4 linked regions of the Homo sapiens genome follow. The protein of the gene in region 2 interacts with the protein of the main gene of each other region in a pairwise test. Each region holds a gene or a part of one and is shown on either strand. Other genes may lie near its edges.

The links.
Region 1: the proteins of ARIH2 (region 2) and CBR3 interact in a two-hybrid assay, tested with the Homo sapiens proteins (one large-scale study listed by BioGRID and IntAct).
Region 3: the proteins of ARIH2 (region 2) and CCDC33 interact in a two-hybrid assay, tested with the Homo sapiens proteins (2 studies listed by BioGRID and IntAct).
Region 4: the proteins of ARIH2 (region 2) and PTN interact in a two-hybrid assay, tested with the Homo sapiens proteins (one large-scale study listed by BioGRID and IntAct).

The regions. Positions count from the first base shown.
Region 1 is NC_000021.9:36,140,401-36,145,532, reverse strand, and holds part of CBR3 (carbonyl reductase [NADPH] 3), read right to left. Parts: intron 4,138-5,132; exon of another isoform or gene 3,610-4,137; coding exon of another isoform or gene 3,569-3,609; exon of another isoform or gene 3,389-3,568; intron 1-3,388. UniProt on the Homo sapiens protein: Catalyzes the NADPH-dependent reduction of carbonyl compounds to their corresponding alcohols. Has low NADPH-dependent oxidoreductase activity.
Region 2 is NC_000003.12:48,962,615-48,968,125, reverse strand, and holds part of ARIH2 (E3 ubiquitin-protein ligase ARIH2), read right to left. Parts: intron 3,208-5,511; coding exon 3,144-3,207; intron 1,002-3,143; coding exon 851-1,001; intron 66-850; exon of another isoform or gene 1-65.
Region 3 is NC_000015.10:74,266,148-74,271,279, reverse strand, and holds part of CCDC33 (coiled-coil domain-containing protein 33), read right to left. Parts: intron 4,603-5,132; coding exon 4,493-4,602; intron 2,939-4,492; coding exon 2,822-2,938; intron 1-2,821.
Region 4 is NC_000007.14:137,231,780-137,236,911, forward strand, and holds part of PTN (pleiotrophin isoform 1 precursor), read right to left. Parts: intron 1-5,132.

The sequences.
Region 1 (5,132 bases), on a different chromosome or scaffold from region 2:
CTCTGTCTCTACTAACAATAGAAAAATTAGCTGGGTGTGGTGGCGTGTGCCTGTGGTCTCAGCTACTCAGGAAGCTGAGGTAAGAGGATCACCTGAATCCAGGAAGTAGAGATTGCAGTGAGCCATGATCACACCACTACACTCCACTACACTCCAGCCTGGGTGACACGAATGAGACCCTTTCTCAAAAAGTAATAATCAAATTTAAAAAAAGATTAAAAATGTGACTATAGAAGGCATAAAATCTATGCACCCATGGGATTTAATTTTTTTGGCCCTATTCTCCCAAGGGGAAGAACACACCTCCATCAGTGACAGGGGGGGCTCCCTTTCTCAGGGATTCGCTGAGAGATGGGTGAGGTAGTAAATTTGTAGATTCCCCAGGCAGTTTTATTTTTACTTTTACTTAAATTTATTTATTTATTTTTTAAGACGCAGTCTTGCTCTATCACGCAGGCTGGAGTGCAGTGGCACAATCTTGGCTCACTGCAACCTCCGACTTCCGGGTTCAAGCAATTCTCCTGCCTCAGCCTCCCAAGTAGCTGGGACTACAGGTGCCCACCACCACGCCCAGCTAATTTTTGTAATTTTAGTAGAGATGGGGTTTTGCCATGTTGGCCAGGCTGGTATTGAACTCCTGACCTGAAGTGATCTGCCCACCTCGGCCTCCCAAAGTGCTGGAATTACAGGCGTGAGCCACTACACCTGGCCTAAAATTTTTTTATTTTGTTTTGTGAGACAGAGTCTTGTTTTGTTGCCTAGGCTGCAGTGCAGTGGCACAATCTCGGCTCACTGCAACCTCCGCCTCCCAGGATCAAGTGATTCTACTGCTTCAGCCTCCCAAAGTGCTGGAATTACAGGCGTGAGCCACTACACCTGGCCTAAAATTTTTTTATTTTGTTTTGTGAGACAGAGTCTTGTTTTGTTGCCTAGGCTGCAGTGCAGTGGCACAATCTCGGCTCACTGCAACCTCCGCCTCCCAGGATCAAGTGATTCTACTGCTTCAGCCTCCCAAAGTGCTGGAATTACAGGCGTGAGCCACTACACCCGGCCTAAAAATTTTTTATTTTGTTTTGTGAGACAGTCTTGTTTTGTTGCCTAGGCTGCAGTGCAGTGGCACAATCTCGGCTCACTGCAACCTCCGCCTCCCAGGATCAAGTGATTCTACTGCTTCAGCCTCCCAAGTAGCTGGGATGAAGGTGTGTGCCACCATGCCCAGCTAATTTTTGTATTTTTTTAGTAGAGATGAGGTTTCACCATGTTGGCCATACTGGGCTTGAACTCCTGACCTCAAGAGATCCGCCCGCTTTGGCCTCCCAAAGTGCTAGGATTACAGGTGTGAGCCACCGTGTGCCCAGCCCGCTGGCAGTTTTATAAAACTGCTCCTCCCCAGCATACACACTCCAAGTACTTATAAACCTGCTTTCTGAGGGACAGTGCTCTCACCCTAAGGACTAAAGCTCTCAATTTCCTAGGCACACCCAATGTCCTAGGACAGTGGGCAGCCACCCCAATTCCTTAGTGCCACAACCAGCAGTAAGGAATCCCTGGGGATGACTCTGTCTGTCCTTCATTATGGACACTTCACGTGTGGAATGGGCTGTTTTTCCATCCTGGTTTTTATCTCATCACTTTTTTTTTTTTTTTTTTTTTGAGACAGAATCTCACTCTGCCAGCCAAGCTGGAGTGCAGTGGCATGATCTCGGCTCACTGTAGCCTCCACTTCCCAGACTCAAGTGATCCTCCTGTCTCAGCCCCACAAATAACTGGGCCCACAGGCACACACCACTGCACTCAAATAATTTTTGTATTTTTCGTAGAAACGGGGTTTCTCCATGTTGGCCGGGCTGGTCGCAAACTCCTGAGCTCAGGAGATCTGCCTGCCTTGGCCTCCCAAAGTGCTAGGATTATAGGCGTGAGCCACTGCATCCGGCCTGATTTCATTACTTTTTAGTCCCTATTTGATAATATTAATATTCATTAAATTATGAATTAATATTCATGTTGATCATGATTCACAGCTACTAAAGAGACAATTGTGCCCATAGAAACAAATATGTAGGCCAAAAATTTTACAATTTGAAGTACTGGTGGAAATCCAAAAACCAGTAAATGTGTTAATTTACACATTTCATCAGCATCAAACCCCACTAATTTTAGTGAGTTCTTTTATTATGTATTATTCTGAATGCATATTCTCTGTGTCCAATAGGGTCTTTTTTTTTTTCTTTGAGATGAGTCTTGCTCTGTTGTCCAGGCTGGAGTGCAGTGGCGCGATCTCAGCTCACTGCAACCTCTATCTCGGGTTTAAGTGATTCTCCTGCCTCAGCCTCCCAAGTAGCTGGGATTACAGGTGTGCGCCACCATGCCCAGCTAATTTTTGTATTTTTAGGAGAGATGGGGTTTCACCATGTTGGCCAGGCTGGTCTCAAACTCCTGACCTCAGGTGCTCTGCCTTCCTCGGCCTCCCAAAGTGCTGGGGTTGCACGCATGAGCCACCGCACCTGGCCGGATCTGTAGATTTTATTTCATTTTCTGAATGGCATTCCCCACAAGTTCCCATTGCAAGGGAGCTGCACATTCTTGTGGACCCCAATCCCACAAGAGATACCCTCACTCTGTCCTTGGAAACTAGCACCTCACTCATCCCCCCAGGTACCTAGTACTATTCAGTATTTCTTTCCTTCCTTCTCTCTCTCACTTTCAAAGATGAAGTGTATGTATGTATTTCTTTCCTGTTACAGAGAAGTTACAAGAATAGTTCGATAAATACCCTATGCCCATCACCTAAGTTCACTAATTGTTAACATTTTGCTGTGTTTGCTTTTTCCCTCTCTGTCCCTTTTTCTCTCCAAGTTGCTGATATCATAAACCTTCATCTTAAACACTTTAGTATTATATATGGTAGCAAGGGCATTCCCCTACATTACTACAGTTATGACCACATGCCAGGCATTTATCATTATACAACACTATTATCTAAAATACAGCCCATATTCAAATGTGTCCAAATTGTCCCAGTAATGTTCTTTTACAGTTTTTGTTTGCTTTAATCCAGGGTCCAAAGTAGGATCATGGATTGCGTTTTTTTTTTTTTTTTTGAGATGGAGTCTCGCTCTGTCACCTAGGCTGGAGTGCAGTGGCGTGATCTCGGCTCACTGCAAGCTCCACCTCCCGGGTTCATGCCATTCTCCTGCCTCAGTCTCCCAAGTAGCTGGGACTACAGGCGCCTGCCACCATGCCTGGCTAATTTCTTGTATTTTTAGTAGAGACGGGGTTTCACCGTGTTAGCGAGGATAGTCTCAATCTCCTGACCTCATGATCCGCCCGCCTTGGTCTCCCAAAGTGCTGGGATTACAGGCGTGAGTCACCGCACCTGGCCCATGGATTGCATTTAATTGTCACATCTCTTTCATATATTTTAATGTAAGGTAGTTGGCAATGACTTTTTTGAAGACTGTAGACCATTATTTTGTAGTATTTCTCTCAAAGTGAATTGGTCTGTTCTCATGAGGAGAGTCACATCAATATTTTGGCCAGGAATACTACATCAGTGATGTTGTGTTCTTCATTGCTTTCTAAACAGCTTTGTTCTCAGAAACTTGGCGGCTACAAGGAATTAAATGTGAATGGGAAAGGAAGAAAGAAAAACACAGATCATAGAAGCTGTGCCTTCGAGGAAATAAATCCTCTTAAGGGGAGGAGGTGTCCTCTTTGATCTGAGGGCACACCTCTGGGAGAGAGGCCAGAGGCTGACAGTCAGCCTCGTCAGCCAGATGCGTCATCAGCCCTGGGAAGGGCTGCACCCACACCACCCTCCACTGAGGTCCAGGTGGCCCCACCGGTCCCGAAACACCTGCTGCCTTACTCTAGAAAGAGTAGGCAAGTTGCGCCCTCTAGTGGCTTAGTAGTTGCTTGTCCTATTGACTCAGAACCTTGAACAAATAAGCAAGTCAAATACAGATAGATGGTCCCTGCCCTCTGATGGTTCCACTTAGGACTTACTGACTTCACTGATGGATGAGGAAGCGATATGCATTCTGCAGAATCTGTACTTGGAGGCCCCATACAACCATTCTGCATTTCACTTTCAGTACAGATTCAATAAATTACATAAGATACTCAACATTTTATGATAAAATAGGCTTTGTGTTAGATGACTTTGCCAGACTATAGGCTAATGTAAGCGTTCAAAGCACCTTGAAGCTAGACGAGGCTGACCTATGGTGTTTGGTAGGTCAGATGCGTTAAATGCATTTTTTTTTTTTTTTGAGACAAGGACTTGCTCTGTCGCCCAGGCTAGAGTACAGTGGCACAATCATAGCTCACTGCAGCCTCAACCTCCTGGGCCCAAGCGATCCTCCCACCTCAGTCTCTCGAGAAGCTGGAACATGCCACTATGCCCAGCTAATTTTTAATTTTCATTTTTTGTGTAGAGCTGGGGTCTCCATATGTTGCTCAGGATTAAGTCCATTCTTATGATATTTTCTTTTCTTTCTTTCTTTCTTTTTTTTTTTTTTTTTTTGAGATGGAGTGTGGCTCTGTCGCCCAGGCTGGAGTGCAGTGGCGCGATCTGGGCTCACTGCAAGTTCCGCCTCCCGGGTTCATGCCATTCTCCTGCCTCAGCCTCCCGACTAGCTGGGACTACAGGTGCCCACCACCATGCCTGGCTAATTTTTTTGTATTTTTAGTAGAGATGGGGTTTCACCGTGTTAGCCAGGATGGTCTCGATCTCCTGACCTCGTGGTCTGCCTGCCTTGGCCTCCCAAAGTGCTAGGATTACAGGTGTGAGCCACTGTGCCCGGCCACAAAAACTTCTTAACCTAAAAAGGTGAATGGTGAGAATTGCACTTGTACTCTTGTACTTGCTCAGTTTTTTAGTGGGATGGGATCAGAGAAAGCCTGCAGGGAGAACTGCAGGTGCTCTGGAAGGGGATGGAGTTTTAAAGGTGTCTTAATACCTTGCAGCTCTCAAGTTCCCATTCAAAAATTTATCGGGAGAAAACTTCCCAACACTGGGTAAAAGACATCCCTATAATGGCTGCGTCCCTATATAGCCACAAAAAAGATAAAAGCTTTCTGACCAAACCTGGAGAGAGCCCCAGACATAAGGAGTAAAAAAAGCAAAGTGG
Region 2 (5,511 bases):
GAGGCAGTGGTTGTGGTGAGCTGAGATCATGCAATTGTACTCCAGCCTGGGCAACAAGAGCGAAACTGTCTCAAAAAACAAACAAACAAACAAACAAAAAAAAAACAAACCCAAAAAAGTGATGGACAAGCATACTGCAGAAGACACAACTTGCCCACCTAGTTCTGTCAACAAATCCAAGTTGCATAAAAGAAACTCTTCAAGCAACAGAATTTATTCAAAGAGAAGAGAGAAATTAGCATATTTTCACAGCAATGAAACTAAAATATTATCCCAAATTGTATCACTAACGGCACCATTAAATAACAAAACCATTTAAAAAATCCTTATATAGGTTCTTGACTAACAATTGAGTTTTGTGATGTTTAACATTATTTAGAGGTGATTATCACCAATTGTGGGACTTTGCAGATATCAATTAATGCGATGCTAATGTGTTTCAGTATCATCAAATCACAGTATAACAAATACTTCTGTAACTAATCATCAAATTTGATTTGTGCTATGTTACCTAAATAGCAGCAAACTCTTGTGGGCATTTCTGAGTTATGGCTGCCACTTGTGGAATCAAGGTAGGCAGCTTAAAGGATCGTTCTCCCAAAAGGTGAGAGAAGGTAGCTCTGCACTCACGCCAACATTTACAACAGTATATTTAGTTTTCTCGTTTTGCTGAGGACTGGGGAAAACTTTGTCACTGTTTGTATGGATGTATTTGAAAATCACTAGTTCTGATGATAAAAACCCCAATCAGGCTCAGAAGAAAATACTCAGTTTACTTGAGTACATGAAAAGGCAGAGTCAAAGATAAACACTTCATGCCAGCTTTTTATAAGTTTTGTGGCAGACTCACCCACGCCCACGCCGTCCTTGACGAGAACTGAGCAGTGCTGCTCCCAGCAGCTGCGGCAAAACTGGTGCTGACAGGCCAGAGAGAGTAGGTTTTCCTTTCGCACAAACTGCATACACACTGCACAGTGGTGAGGGGGATGGGATGTGGGAACCTGGAGAGAAACAGAGCCACATGAGCCAAAGAGGAGTCAGGTCCAGAAGGCCATAAGGGTACCTCATGCAGCCGGGTGCATGGAAAGTGATCCTCACCCTGCAACAAGTATCAGAGCTCAACTGCAATGTGTGGACTCTGAGTCCCAAGGGTACTAAGCTAAAAGTATATACCAGGAAGGCTTCCTGAAGGAGGTGGCAGCTGGGCTGGGCTTGCAAAATCACCAGGATTCAGAGGCAGAAACAAGGCTGAAATGAGAACTTACAGTGGTTTATAATGGCAGACTGAAAAACTCAGGGTTTCAGAATTGCCAAGGTCCTTAGAAGTCACTTAGTCCAAATTCTTTTAGAAGCTATCAGGTTTCTTTTGTAGACTACCCCTGTTAAGCACAGCAGAGTTGCCCCTCACAACTACTAGAAACCTAGTCACAAAGGTTATTAGAGGATGAGTTTATAAATCTTCTAACAGCCAACACTGTAGTTTTACTTGTCAAGGACAGTGGTTTCACTATATCGACGTACCCAAACCACAAAATACTACAGCCTTTACCAAGTTACAACTCATCCTTAATACACCAGATGTCACATGTAATTAATATTGGCGGGGGGGATGTGGAGACACCAACTAGGGGAAGAAACTCTTCTAGAATGTGTGCAAATAACTGTATAGCATGAACTCCAGAATCCACATCATGCTACACAAACTGGCAGAGAAAGACAATCTGGGGACCTTGGCTAAAACCACAAACCAATGGAAAAGTCCACTTACAAGAACATTAGGTTCTTTTTAGTTAACTGGGAATATAAAAAAACAAGTTGAGAAAAAGAACTGGATTCTCATGTTTATCCATTTTGCTTCTGGAAACCTTTGTCTTAAGAGGCTGCAGAAATTATGTGGTGATCTGAGCCCCAATTCTGCCTTCCAAGATCTATTTTAGCATGGCCCTCATTCAAAAAATATTCGACATATGTTCGTTTAGCTCCTAGATAAACAGGAAATTGCTATGCATTGTTAAAATACAGCTTCTATGGTAGGGGTGGTAAAATGATATGAGTTAATCACTATAACACACATGTAAAAGTTTATAGATATAATTAGGTGAGTTTCCAGGGGAATGATCCAGGAGACAGGCTTTGTCAGAGGTGGCTTAGATTTTTTTTTTCTTCTGATGGAGTGTCTGTCGCCCAGGCTGGAGTGCATGCAGGGGTGCGATCTTGGCTCACTGCAACCTCCACCTCCCGGGTTCAACCAGTTCTCCTGCCTCAGCCTCCCAAGTAGCTAGGATTACAGGCATGCGCCACCAGGCCTGGCTAATTTTTGTATTTTTAGTAGAGATGGGGTTTCACCATGTTGGCCAGGCTGGTCTCAAGCTCCTGACCTCAAGTGATCCGCCCGCCTCGGCCCCCCAAAGTGCTGGGATTATGGGCGTGAGCCACCGTGCCTGGCCGGACTGGGGTCTTTAAAGGTGAATTCCCTCCCTATAAGCAAAGGTGGAGCCAGAGTCTGAACATTCTAGGAAGGGAAGGCACAAACAGAAGACATATGCAGTAATCTCAGACACACCAAAGCACCCAGAAGGAATGGAGTGCAGGCTGAAAGTGCAGAGAGGAAAGTGGGGCTGGAGAGGGCCCAAGGACAGGCAATGACTTAGTCCCTATCTATAAGGAAACTTTTCAAACCATAACAGAAGATTTAAGTCAATACTAGAACAAATATTGTGGGCATGTTGAACTATAAACAAAGCAAAGAGAGCTCCTTTTTTTTTTGAGACAGAGTCTCGCTCTGTCGCCCAGGTTGGAGTGCAGTGGCATGATCTTGGCTCACTGCAAGCTCCGCCTCCCGGGTTCACGCCTTTCTCCTGCCTTAGCCTCCCGAGTAGCTGGGACTACAGGTGCCTGCCACCACATCCGGCTAATTTTTTTTTTTTGTATTTTTAGTAGAGACAGGGTTTCACCGTGTTAGCCAGGATGGTCTCGATCTCCTGACCTCGTAATCCACCCGCCTCAGCCTCCCAAAGTGCTGGGATTACAGGCGTGAGCCACACCGCACCCAGCCAAGTAAAGATAGCTCTTAAGGACACTGCAAGCCAAAGCAAGAACCACATGCAATTAGGAGAAGCCTCATTCAAGTAATAGACACTCACATGTTTTGATGGATTAGGCTGAACTCGAGCCTCAACAAGCAGTTGAGCAGAATTGGACTTGTATCTACAAAACAAAAAGCAGAAATGAAGGCAATCAGAAGCTAAAGACATTTTTACCCCTGAACAATAACAGGACAGAGAAAGATGTTTAGAGCATCTTTGTCTCTACTTTCTCACAGAACTAAGCTTCCTTTTATCTCAGTACAAAGACTTTTTTTCTCAAGACAGAAAATGCAAAATATAAAGGAATAATAAAAAATATAAAGCCCAATAAATCATGCTACATTTAAGAACCTCAATTCATCAGAAGACACCAAAGTCAAAAGCCAAGCCATAAGCTGGAAGATAATTCAATATATAAACTTCTAGGCCAGGCGCAGTGGCTTACTCCTGCAATCCCAGCACTTTGGGAGGCCGAGGCGGGCAGATCACTTGAGGTCAGGAGTTTGAGACCAGCCTGGCCAAGATGGTGAAACCCGTCTCTACTAAAAATACAAAAATTAGCTGGGCATGGTGGCACGTGCCTATAGTCCCAGCTACTTGGGAGCCTGAGGCAAGAGAATCGTTCGAACCCGGGAGGCAGAGGTTGCAGTGAGCTGAGATTGTGCCATTGCACTCCAGCCTGCAAGACAGAGCGAGATTCTGTCTCAAAAAAAAAAAAAAATTCTATATATATGGCTGGGCGCAGTGGCTCACACCTGTAGTCTCAGCACTTTGGGAGGCCGAGGTGGGTAAATCACTTGAGGTCAGGAGTTTGAGACCAACCTGGCCAATATGGTGAAACCCTATCCGGGAGTGTTGGCTCATGCCTGTAATCCCAGCTACTTGGGAGACTGAAGCAGGAGGATCGCTTGAACCTGGGAGGTGGAGGTTGCAGTGAGCAGAGACTGCACTACTGCACTCCAGCCTGGGAGACAGAGCAAGACTCTGTCTTTAAAAAAAATAAAAATAAAAATAAAAATAAAAAAAATAACTGGCAAAGGATCAGTATTCAGAGTAAACAAAACTCCTAAAAATCCATTTGGTTCTAGGAACTGGACATGGGAGAAGGGGGAAGGATCCATTTGGAATAACAAAATAACTCAATAAAAAATGGGGAGAAGACTTAACAGGCATTTCAAAGGAGGAGGCAGCACAAATGGCCATTAAACATATGAAAAGATTCTCAACCTCCTTAATAATACAGGACCATTGAAACAATTAGATGCCATTTACATCCACCAAACTGCAAAACTTTAAGTCTTACAATATCAGGAACACCTATATACCACTGCTGAGCGTGTAAAGTGGTAAATCACTCTGGAAAACAACCTGGAATTATTTAGCAAAGACAAAACTACACGTATGCTATAGCCAATAATTCCTTTTCTATATTTAACTCCAGAAAAATTACGTGACAGTAAGAGTTACCTACAATAATTTTCCATTTATAACAGAATTATCAAGTGGCAATAAAAGTGCCACACAAAGCCCAGGTCAACATATTTCCAAGATACCAGGAATTGGAGCAGAAAAGAATTATGTCTCATCTATGTGATTTCTACCTAGTCAGAATGCTTCCCTCAGCTATCCTTATTGAGGGGCCCGTTTTATTCCTAATTCCCACAGTAATATTTTAAGTATCTTTTGCCATCCAAATCTCCACTCCTGAGTTATGCTGAAAGAGTGTGGGCAGTGAGAGATATCCTATTGCCAGAACCTATGTGGTTCCAGAGTTTTGGGCAGTAGTATAATAATAAGGCAGCAGCAGTTCATCTGCAATTCCATCTAAATATATTCCGTTCTTGAGTACACAGGATGAGTGCAGTTAGTGAATCAGGAACGAATTTGCTCTTTCCTGACTGTGCTGAGCTGCTCCAGCTGGTATGTCCTTCCCAGTTGTGTTCAGCCCGGAGAAGGAAAGGCACGATCTTCCTCTGTAGATAAATTCTACTAAAAATACAAGAATTAACCAGGCATGGTGGCAAGTGCTGGTAATCCCAGCTACTTCATAGGCTGAGGCAGGAGAGTTGCTTGAACCCTGGAGATGGAGGTTGCAGTGAGCCAAGGTTGTGCCACTGCACTCCAGCCTGGGTGACAGAGTGAGACTTTGTCTCAAAAAAATAAAAATAAAAAAAAACATACCATACGAGAAAGGAAGATTCACTGCAGTGTGAAAGAGTAGGAATGGTAACAAGTGCTTCTCACCAGAGGGAATTTTGCTCCCCACGAGTTATTTGACAATGTTTGGAGACATTTTGATTGCCAAGGACTTAGAGGTGTGGCTTCTAATAGAGCCCAGGGATGCTGCCAGACATCCTACAATTCACAGATCAGGCCCCCCACAACAAAGAGTTATCTAGTCTAAAATGTCAATAATGCTGAGGAT
Region 3 (5,132 bases), on a different chromosome or scaffold from region 2:
CAGGGCTGTGAGGGGTCTCTGATTAGATCGTTTGTGAGAGAGCACTTTATAAACTGAAGACAGGAAGCCCAGGTCTGGTTTCTCCGACCATGCTGAACTTCCTGAGATCAGCGGCCACAGCCAGGCTCCCCTTGCCTCCCTCGTGCCCATCACCCTGGTGCCTGCTCCACTGCTCACCCTGGTGCCTGCTCTCCTGCCTTGCTGGTTTCCCCAGGAAGTACTGGTTTGGAACAGGATCATAGCATCCGCATCTCTGGGCTCCTCTTTCTTCATCAGATCCCGGTTGTCACTCCCCTGACCGCCCTTGGTTGTTCCCTCCTCAGTCCTCTGTCACCCCCTAAAGGCTTCCCTGCCTCCCAGTCCTGACTGCCCTCTCCTCTACTCCAGGCTTCTATTGGCGCAGCTTTCAGAGAGCCGAGCGGGGTCCCAGCAGGAGGTTACAAAGCAGGAGTGGACAGCGTCACCTTGCTCCAACCCTCACTGACCCCCTGCTCAGTCTGGGCCTGGGGGACACTGGAAGGCAGACAGGGGAGACAGGGAGTCTGTCCCCATGCGCCTCTGCTGCCAGCCTAAGAGGCCCTGATCTCCCGGACCCTGACCCTCACCCTGTATCCACCAATGGCTCCCACTCTCCCTCAGCCCTCACCCACCTCCCACTCGGCTCTCATTCCTCTTGCTCCTTCGATTCCTCTGCCTCCTCACTAGCCTCTCCACTTCTGTTCCTTTCCCTAATCCATCCTCTTTCCCAGGCAATTTGACACATGATGGCAAAAGTGCTCTTGTTAAAAATGAACTGGGTCACGTTATTCCCTGCCCGACACCCCACAAGCCCCTCTGCCGTGTCTCCCGACAGGCCCCCAGCCCCTGTCTTCTTGCTCCAGACTCTTTTACTCCTGCCACTTACCCCTCTTATTTCTGCCACAGGGTCTTTGCACATGCTGATCCCTCTACTCAGACTCCCTGCAGCTCCCACCAACCCATTGTGGCTGGCGAGGGCCCAGGAGTGAGGCTTGTTCTGGATCATTCTCCCTTTTCTCCCTCCGCACCCTCCTTTCAGGCTCCTCTTTCAATACCCATCTCAGCTGGTTTTCCCACCTCTAACCCCACACAGGTGTGAGCTGATGGGCACGTACAATAGTCCTTAGGGCCTCGCAGCTCTCACTGAGGGCTCTGGAGACTGAATCCCTTCATCACATTCAAAGGATTGAATCTCTGATGGTACATTTCACACTTTGGATGGGTCTGGGGTCTGGGGCTGAGGGATTTCACTGGAGGCTGGCAGGCCCTATTGCTCACAGGCTCCCCAGCAGGTGTAAGACTAAAAAGGGGGTGGTGGCAGCTAATTTGCACCTGTTCTGTGTGGACTCTGATCAGGTGTGAATGAGACAGCTGCCCAAGTACACCTGCTCATGACAGCCTGGGAAGTAGCAGAAGTTCCTGCTCCTGCCATGCGCTCACCATCAGGAGCAGGCAGCTGCTCTGTGGCCATACCTGTCGCACGGATGGAGAGGGCATCTGTGCTGGGGCAGGAGAGTGGGCAGGGTGCTGTGAGCCAGAGAAGGCCCCTACTCTACCGCTCTACCAGGCAAGTCAGAGGGCTGGGTGGGGTGGGGCAGCTCCACAGCAGCCCTAAAGTTCTGCCTGTGTCTTGGGGATGTGGCCTCCTCCCTGTGGGGTGCGGCCTGGGGACAGCAAGGCCAGGCTGTTGCCCCTCTTCCTTGTTCTGTGTGTGTGTGAATTGCTGGCTGTCCTCAGGAAAGGGCGTGATAGAAGGTGGCGGGGAGCAGAGGGCGCCTGTAGGTCTGATATGCTGGCATCAGAGGGGTGGCTGTAGGGGAGTAGAAATGTGGGTTAGGAGTTTTGGCTCCCATACCATACTCCCCTTGGGTCTCAGTGTCCCTGGCTGTGAAAGAAGGCAAAAGAATGCTTCCTTCCCTGCCAGGCCCACGGTGCTGGTGGGAAGTAGGGGGGTGGGAAGGATAGGAACAGATCAGCCATGTTTGGGTAGGTGGAAGCTCAGAGCTTGGGTCCTGTGGCTCCCACCCTGATCATACTCAGGCCATAGCTGAATTTGAATCTGTCACCCATGGGCAGTTTGAAAGTTGGGGGGAATGGGAGAGGGGCCAGGTCCCTGCATCATGTCTGCTTTGAGCATCAAGAGTTCCTCCCAAAGCTGCTAATTGGCCTAGGGGGTGGATGGTGATGGGTCAAGGGGCAGTGGCCAGGCCCAAGGTGGGCTCAGCCCTGTCCTGGCTAATGGAAGAGGCTCTGTAAACAGTTGCTGGATGAATAAATGAATGAATAAACTAAATACCTAATCGCCAGACCAGTCAAACCTCTTTAGACACAGTGCTGAAGGAAAGCTCAAGGAGGCCCTAAACTTTTGCTTGGGGGCCAAGGCACTATCCCAGGAGGGGAAGAATAGAGCAGGAAACTGCTGGGCTGTGGGCTCAGGGGGAGCACGGGGCTTCTCCCCTGCCCCTAGCATAAGATTCGGGGAGACAGGCTCTGGTCCCCACTGCAGCACAGAGACGGTACACCAGGAGCAGCAGTGTGGCTGAGCCCCTCCCCGCCACCTCCAAGACAGAGAGGGAAGGAGAAGAGGCTTGAGCATCTTCATCCTTGTCATCCCTGCCAAAGGGCTTGTCTTCACAACTCCTTTTGCTATTTTGGAAAGGCCTGGTTGCTTTTTCCATTCTTGACATCTCTGCTCCACACCCTCAGGTCAGCCAGAGGGGGCTAAGGGCAAGGCGTGGGGCCTGCTCAAAGCTTGGCCCTTTCCCACCCCCACCACCACCCCAGAGGGCCCCAGCCCTGGTACCTCCAGAGCCATGTGGTTGCAGCCGATGTAGCGGGGTATGAAGCTGCTCTTCCGAACGACTGTTGCGTACAACTGGGTCTTGGCAGTGGCTTCATCGGCTTTCCCAGACTCAGTGGGCTGGAGACAGGGTTGGGGCAGAAGACACAGAGGAAGGAGAGTGTCTAAGGGGCAGATCCTGGCCATAAATCCAGCCCTCTGCAGACAATCACTTGGCATTGCTCCGCTGGGGCTCCGAGCTGATAATTAAAGCTCATGGTCCCTGTGAGCCCTTCCAAGGAGATCAATATAATAAATCTTCCCTTTTCCATTTGAATATTTCATCACCCTCACAAGGACCACTGCCTGTCTGCTTTCCAGTAAAGATGTGATAACAAGGCCTGGGTTGTAAGTGAACAGACAGCCAGGGGGCCTGGGTGATGCCCCCAGAATTACAGCTCAAGTGCTGAGTCTCCCAGGGTGAGTAGCACATCTCTCTTTTACTTCCCTGCATGGCCCATCCTGAAGCCCTGGGATTGGGGTTCCTCATGGGGCCTAAGAGAAGGTAAAGCCCCCTGGTGCCATGATTGAAGAAATGCTTAGAAGAAAGTTCAGTGCTGGCCCGGAGGAGGGATGGGGGAGGGTAACTGACCAAACTGAGCACCTACTGTATGCCAGGAACCTTGCCTATCATTGCTTGAGATCCTCAAAACGACTGTGCCAGCTTTGCCAGTGAGGATGGAGGCCTGGGGACCAAGTGGCTTCCATGGGTATCCAGCTAGGAGGCAACAAACTTGGTCTAGGACCCCCGACAGTCTGGCTTCACATTGTTCTTTACTCTCAACCACTTTCAGGGTCTGGAATGCACAGTGGGGAGGGGAATGTGATGCTTCTGTTCATCTCTGGCTCACTACCTGGCACATAGTAGGTGCTTCATAAGTCCTTGAGCAATGAGAGAGTGAATTCTACCCCTTACCCTTCAGCACTAGGAGGGAGGACAGGCAGGGGTCTGGCCTGGGAGGCCCAACCTTGGAGTGAGGAGCCTCAGGCCCCTCAGTCCATGGCTTGGACCCAGTTGCTCACTCCAGGGGTGCATTCCAGGGAATGCTTTATTCCATGTACCCCCCAACTCTCCTGGGCCTTCTGGCCAAGGCAGCATGTGGAGGCAGCTCAGAAGGAACTGGCTTGGGAGACAGCATGACTTGGGCTCACCCTCAACTCTGCCGCTCACTTGCTCTGTGACCCAGGAGGAGGAGATTTTTCTCCCCAGGTCCCAGTCCCATGTCTGCAAAATGTAATTTACCTTGAGGATTAGAGAGGGGGTGTGAAATGTCTAGCACAGGGCGTGCAAGCAGCGGGTACTCGGTAAATATTGTGTTTCTTTGATTTTTAGATCCGCTCTTTTAACATTTTTGTAATCAAAATCTATCTTTAATTGGTATATTCATTTAATGTGGCAGTTGTCCTATAATAATCAGCTGTTTTTACAGAGATGAATTTGGAGAATTCCAAATTCTTGTAGACACCATTCCTGTGTATGTACCAGGAGCCATGTTTCCTGAGCCCCACATGGTCCTAGACTTGTCATGCTGTGGGTGGGTGTGGGATGCTCAGGGCTGCTCCGAGGGAATAGCTGGGGACATTCAAGGTGGTTCCCACCTGCTCTCCCGGCACTTCCCCAGGCCTCTGACTCACCTTCACCAGCTCAAAGTGGTAGGGGTGGAAGACACGCAGGTACTTGATGGGGATTTTGTAGGACAACAACTCCTGTTTCTTTCTGTTGTCCACCACCTTGAGGATCACATCTGGAAAGAGAAAAAATGAGCCCAGGTTTATTTTTAAATGGATCCCTTTCTCTCCCAGTAAGGAGAGACAGTGAGAGGTGAGAGACATTGTTGAGAGTAGGGAGCAGGGGCCACACTGAGGAATCAACATGCACACACATGTGTGGATCACCCCTGTGCACACAAACCCACAAGCACAGTCTGAGCCCCTGCACAGGGCAAAGCTCCATGCCGGCAGCTGTTAGGACCCCAACATGCAATTTTCTCCCATGGTCTAGAAACTCCCAGGTCAGAGATAGACACACACAGAACTGAGTCCAGTCCCCTGTGGCAACAGACACACATGTGCACACACTGAGATACACAGGCAAGCAGGCATAGCACCTCTTTCCAGGAATAAGACTCTTTCCCTTGGTCACAAACACTTATGCCAGCTCTTGAGGCAGGATGGGGAGAGATTATCTCACACATGTTGCAGGTGGGGAAACTGAATTTCAGTAAGAAAAAGTGATCTGCTCAAGGAAATCCTTTAATACAGCTATCAATAAAAG
Region 4 (5,132 bases), on a different chromosome or scaffold from region 2:
ATATTTTATGAAGAAGAAAACTTACAAACATACGTATATGAAATTTATCCAGGTTTCTTAAAACTTTGTCTTTAGAATAGAGACCTGATTAAACTCTGTGGGTAAAACTGTCCCAGTTTAGTCGCCTTTCAAGGTTAGAGAGAAATGTTTACTATGAGATGTGGGTCACAAATTAGCCTGGAGCAGGGCTATAATTAGTTAAAGCCAAGTGCTTTTTTATTGAAGTCATATAGCGGCTACTCTAGAAGGTTCTGAGAGCCAATAGGATTCCTACCCTGATGTGAACAGTAGGGCACTTTAGTTCACATTGAACAGAGCCAAATCAAGAGAAGGAAGTACACATACACCACACATCAAATAACACCCCGGGCCACATGTCCCTTGTCCCTGCCTGGATTGAGGCTGCAAAGCAGAAATGGATATAAACAGAGAATGAGCCATTGTCAACATGTGAAAGTAAAGGGCACCTGCCTGAAAGGTGACTTGTTCTGTTCCTACCAGGACATCACTGCACTGGAATCTCACAGCAGTGCCCTGGGTAGATTTTAACTTCCTGGGTTTTCAAACTTTCATCCTTTCTTTGGCCAGTTTTTGAGTTGATAGAGGCTAGTACTCATAATAATTGGGATACAGAGATGAGAAAAAATAGTAGGTGTGTATTTTTGTAACTTTGTGGGGGGTTTTTAAATACAAATACATTGTTTTAAGATACGTTTGAAAGTGTTCAGAAAGTCCTAAGGCTTTACTAAGAAAAAGTACTCTAGAAAGGATTCAGGCTTCTTACATTGCTATGAATCATAGGATCCAAAGGGCCATGTTCACCATATTCAATCTAGAAAACTCAGAATTTATCCAAGGAAATTCTTTGAATGCATAACAACTCCTGATAAGAAAGAAGACAGGCAGTGATATGGTTTGACTCTGTGTCCCCACCCAAATCTCACCTTGAATTGTAATCCCCATAATCCCCATGTGTCAAGGGCAGGACCAGATGGAGGTAATTGGATCATGGCGGCAGTTTCCCCCATGCTATTCTGTGATAGTGAGTGAGTCTTATGAGAGTTGATGGTTTTATAAGTGTCTGGCATCTCCCCTGCTTGCATTCATTCTCTTTCCTGCCACCCTGTGAAGAGGTGCCTTCCGCCATGATTGTATGTTTCCTGAGGTCTCCCCAGCTATGTGGAACTGTGAGGGAATTAAACCTCTTTTCTTTATAGATTACCCAGTTCTGGGTATTTCTTCATAGCAGCACGAGAATGGGCTAATACAGTAAATGCAGTGAGAAGAATGAGTAGAAATTAATATGAGCCGTGTTACAATTCTGAGCCCATGTGTTTTTTTCTATGCTGAATAGAAAACAAAATCTTGATAAATGCTAACGTATTAAGTGACACCATGGCCTTTAGGTACGGTGAGACAATGAAAAAATCATGAAGTTTTGTTAGAATCATACTAAGAACTAAGCCCTAATCTAGAGAATTGGTTCAAATAGATGTTTGCCACTTACCAGCTCTGTGATCTTGTGCAGATCAATCATTCTGCCTCTGTTTCCTATAAACTGGGGATAATAAAACCTATATCCTCCTCAGAGGGCCAGTGTTAGTATCATGTGAGATTATGTCCTCTGCAATCTCATCTTACCACTAATGTTCAAAACACATTAATTTATTGATTCAGCAAATATGCACTCCATCTCCACTGTTTTAGACGCTAGGGTATAAAGGTGAACAAGACAAAACTCTGCCTTCACACAGCTGACATTACAAACAACACTTTCAAGGTGGCTTTATGGGAGAGTCTTTCAAAATTGTAAAGTGCTTTAAAGTACATATTTATATTAAAGATCATGGGTATGTGGCAGCTATTTTTATGGTTTTGAGACCTGGTTTTCTTGTTGCTAATTTACTACTACAATCCAGAGACATGTGTTGTGAAAAATAGAGCAGCCACAAGGAGAATGAATTACTAGAAAGAAAGAGTATACCTACAGTAGATTTACCCTGAAGGAAAAGGAGGGTTTCTCCTCTTGGGGTTATTTCATTCTTCTTAAAAAATATTAATTACTTGTCTCATTTAAAAAGTATTACAGACTCATATAAAAACCAAAGAAACACACACACACACACACACATACATATATGTATATATGTATACATATATATGTATATGTACACGTATACATATACATATATATGTATATATATACACACACACATACATAGAGAGAGAGAGATTACTCATAACTTCACAATGTAGAAACAACACTTTTAACGAGTTCTATTTATGTTTTCTTTCTATGACTTTACTTAGGAATATATTGACAGTTGATATAGTATTTTATGCTAAAAATTCAATTGTATCTATTTTCCATGTCATTGCATATACTTTGAAATGTGACCAAGTAATATTCCTTTATATTATCCTACTCCATATATTTTGTAACCTTTCATCTTTTGTACATCAGTTGGATAGTTCTGACCTCTTGTTATTATAAATAATGATGCAATGCTGATTTTGTTCACAAATCATCGAATGCTTAAATTTTGCCTTAGTATAGATTATTAGAAAAGGATGTACTGGATCCAAGGGCAGGACATTTTAAAAACTCCAGATATGTGTCGGGAAATTTATTTTTTGAAAGGAAGTAGTAATTTAAATTCTTATCAGCAATTTATATGAGTCTATCACAGCAAAGTTACTCTTGAAAGGCAAATAATCAGACAACAAGCATCATCTGTTTTCTATCTTTTCACAAGCCTTTTGGAAATAGAATTGCCATGTAGTTGGTATAAGTAAACATCAACTCCCCACTTTCAATATTAAGAAAATCTGGGAGAAATCAGATTGGAAGTGGGCCTTAAGAGAAAGACATCTGTTTAAAGATTGTTCAAAGACCTTAAGGGGACATGTTTTTCAAGAAGTGAGAAAGTTGAGAATTCTGAAATAAGCTTATCTCATTTTCTCAGTAAAAGGTCTTGCTTTGATTACTTATTTTCAGATGGCCTGCTGTGTATACAGAAAAACTAAAAAGGAAATTAGGAGATGAAATGATTTCAGATTGAGGGGAGCCCAGATTTTAACTAAAGTGACTCAGGCCCTGTTCGCTGCTGACTTAAATAAAGTGTCTTTGGGTTATTAAAGCAGTGGGAGGAAGTATTGATTAGAATAGAAATACAAAATGTGCACCTTCTAAGAGATAGAATTCATTTTAGCTAAAAGAAGCTAAAATCATTCAGAAATGCACATTGCAGAGGTCAAGAGAGACAGCTGAAAAGGAACAGTTGGAGGCATACCATCAAGACCACTGAAAGTTCACTTTTGGAGACTTGTTCAATAAATCACAAGGACTTATCACAGAAAAAGGATCATATCCCTGTCAAACAGTACCATCGCAACGTAAATATGTTCAAAAGCCTGCATATCACCAAGATCCTTTTAATGCTTTGTGAACCGATTTAAAGTAACTCACCTGTGCTTAAGAATTAACTGCCTAGTCATCTAGAACTACCTAATCCCTCGCCCCACGTCAGCTATGCCTCAGAACTGATAACAAGGCTTGTCGAATTGTGAACATACAGCTCAGTGATTCAGGAACTAAAATCCAGGTACTGGTTGGCTAGGCTGCCTAACGTGGCACTGTTCATTCAATTTCCAAATATTTCAGTTTAAATGAGTAGCATAAATTAAGTGGCAAAATACAGAAACATATTTCTGTTAAAAATCAAAAGTATCATCTTTTAAACATTTGCTTAATGTGTTATTCACAGATGTAGTTCAGTCCAATGCCTATGCAATAATTTTGTTGTTTCTTCTTTGATTTCCTATTTTGTAGCATCAATTGTTTCATTTCCTCTTTTATGGACTCAATGCATTTACTTCTACGATATGTGTGGAAAACATGTGTACATGCATACTGCCCCTCAGTGCTACCCACATGCTGATACTTTGCTTCATCCACACCTCTTCTTTCCCTCACTGTCCACCTTCCTCTTCATTCATCAACTCTATTTCATAGCAATACCTTCTACTCCTTCTACTCCTGCTCAACTATCTGCTCTTCTGCACTCATTTGCTTTCTGATATCAAGTATACGTGAATAAAAGATAGTACATATATTTGTGTCTAGATGCAGACTAAACACATCTAGACAATTTCAGGAACCTGTTTTGTCCCCCCCACTCACTTTGGGAGGCGGCTCAGCATTTAACTGCATCTCCTAAAAACAGAAAGTTTAGCTATGAAAGCACTAGTGAATAAAGTAGATTTAATAGAAGGTTTAGTGAAGATGAAATTACTTCATCAACCATGCAGAACAAAATTAATAAAAGTCCCCAATATGTCAGTTATTTTTCAAATCAACTCACCAGTTGCATCAGTAGACGAATCCATCTCCCTTCACCCAAACACTCCTCTCTACCATCTTCTCAAACTCTCCCCACTCCTGTGTCTCCATTTTCCCTTCTCTATAAGAAGGAATTGAGATATCTATAGCTTCTCCAAATCATAAAGGGCCCATTCAGGATGCACTTTCTTTACACAGTAGAGTCAGGGGTGGGGGAATCAGCCACACATGAGCGTGTTGGGATCAGTCCCTGATCTGACCCATACATACATGTATACCAAGTAGAAAATTGTCATTTAAACTCCTAGTTTTAGCTCAAAACATGTATACCATCCTTATTTGTTATTTACAGACACACATACACATACACAGACAGAGAGAGAGAAAACCACAGATGTGGATTTAATGCCGAGTTTCTTTTGTTTAGCAAAAGCCTCTGCCCTTCCTCTATCTGTAGACCACTCTCAAGATTTTATACTTCTTGACAGTGACCATCCCACACCACAGATTCATCGACCTCTATACCTAAACACAAAAGAACGATTTATCTCTAATATGACATTTAAATATTTAAGAGCTTATTTCTGCAATAATGAGGAGCTTATTTCTGCAATAATGAGGGCAGAGGTAGAAAATTTGCCTTATTATAAACTATTGTAAATTAGAAATGAAATGTAGTATTATAAACAGTAATAAGTAGTTCACACTTAGCTAATCATTATTTTCTATGATCATATCTAATGTTTAATATAATATAGCCAGTACTACTAGGAAATCAAATTTTAATCTG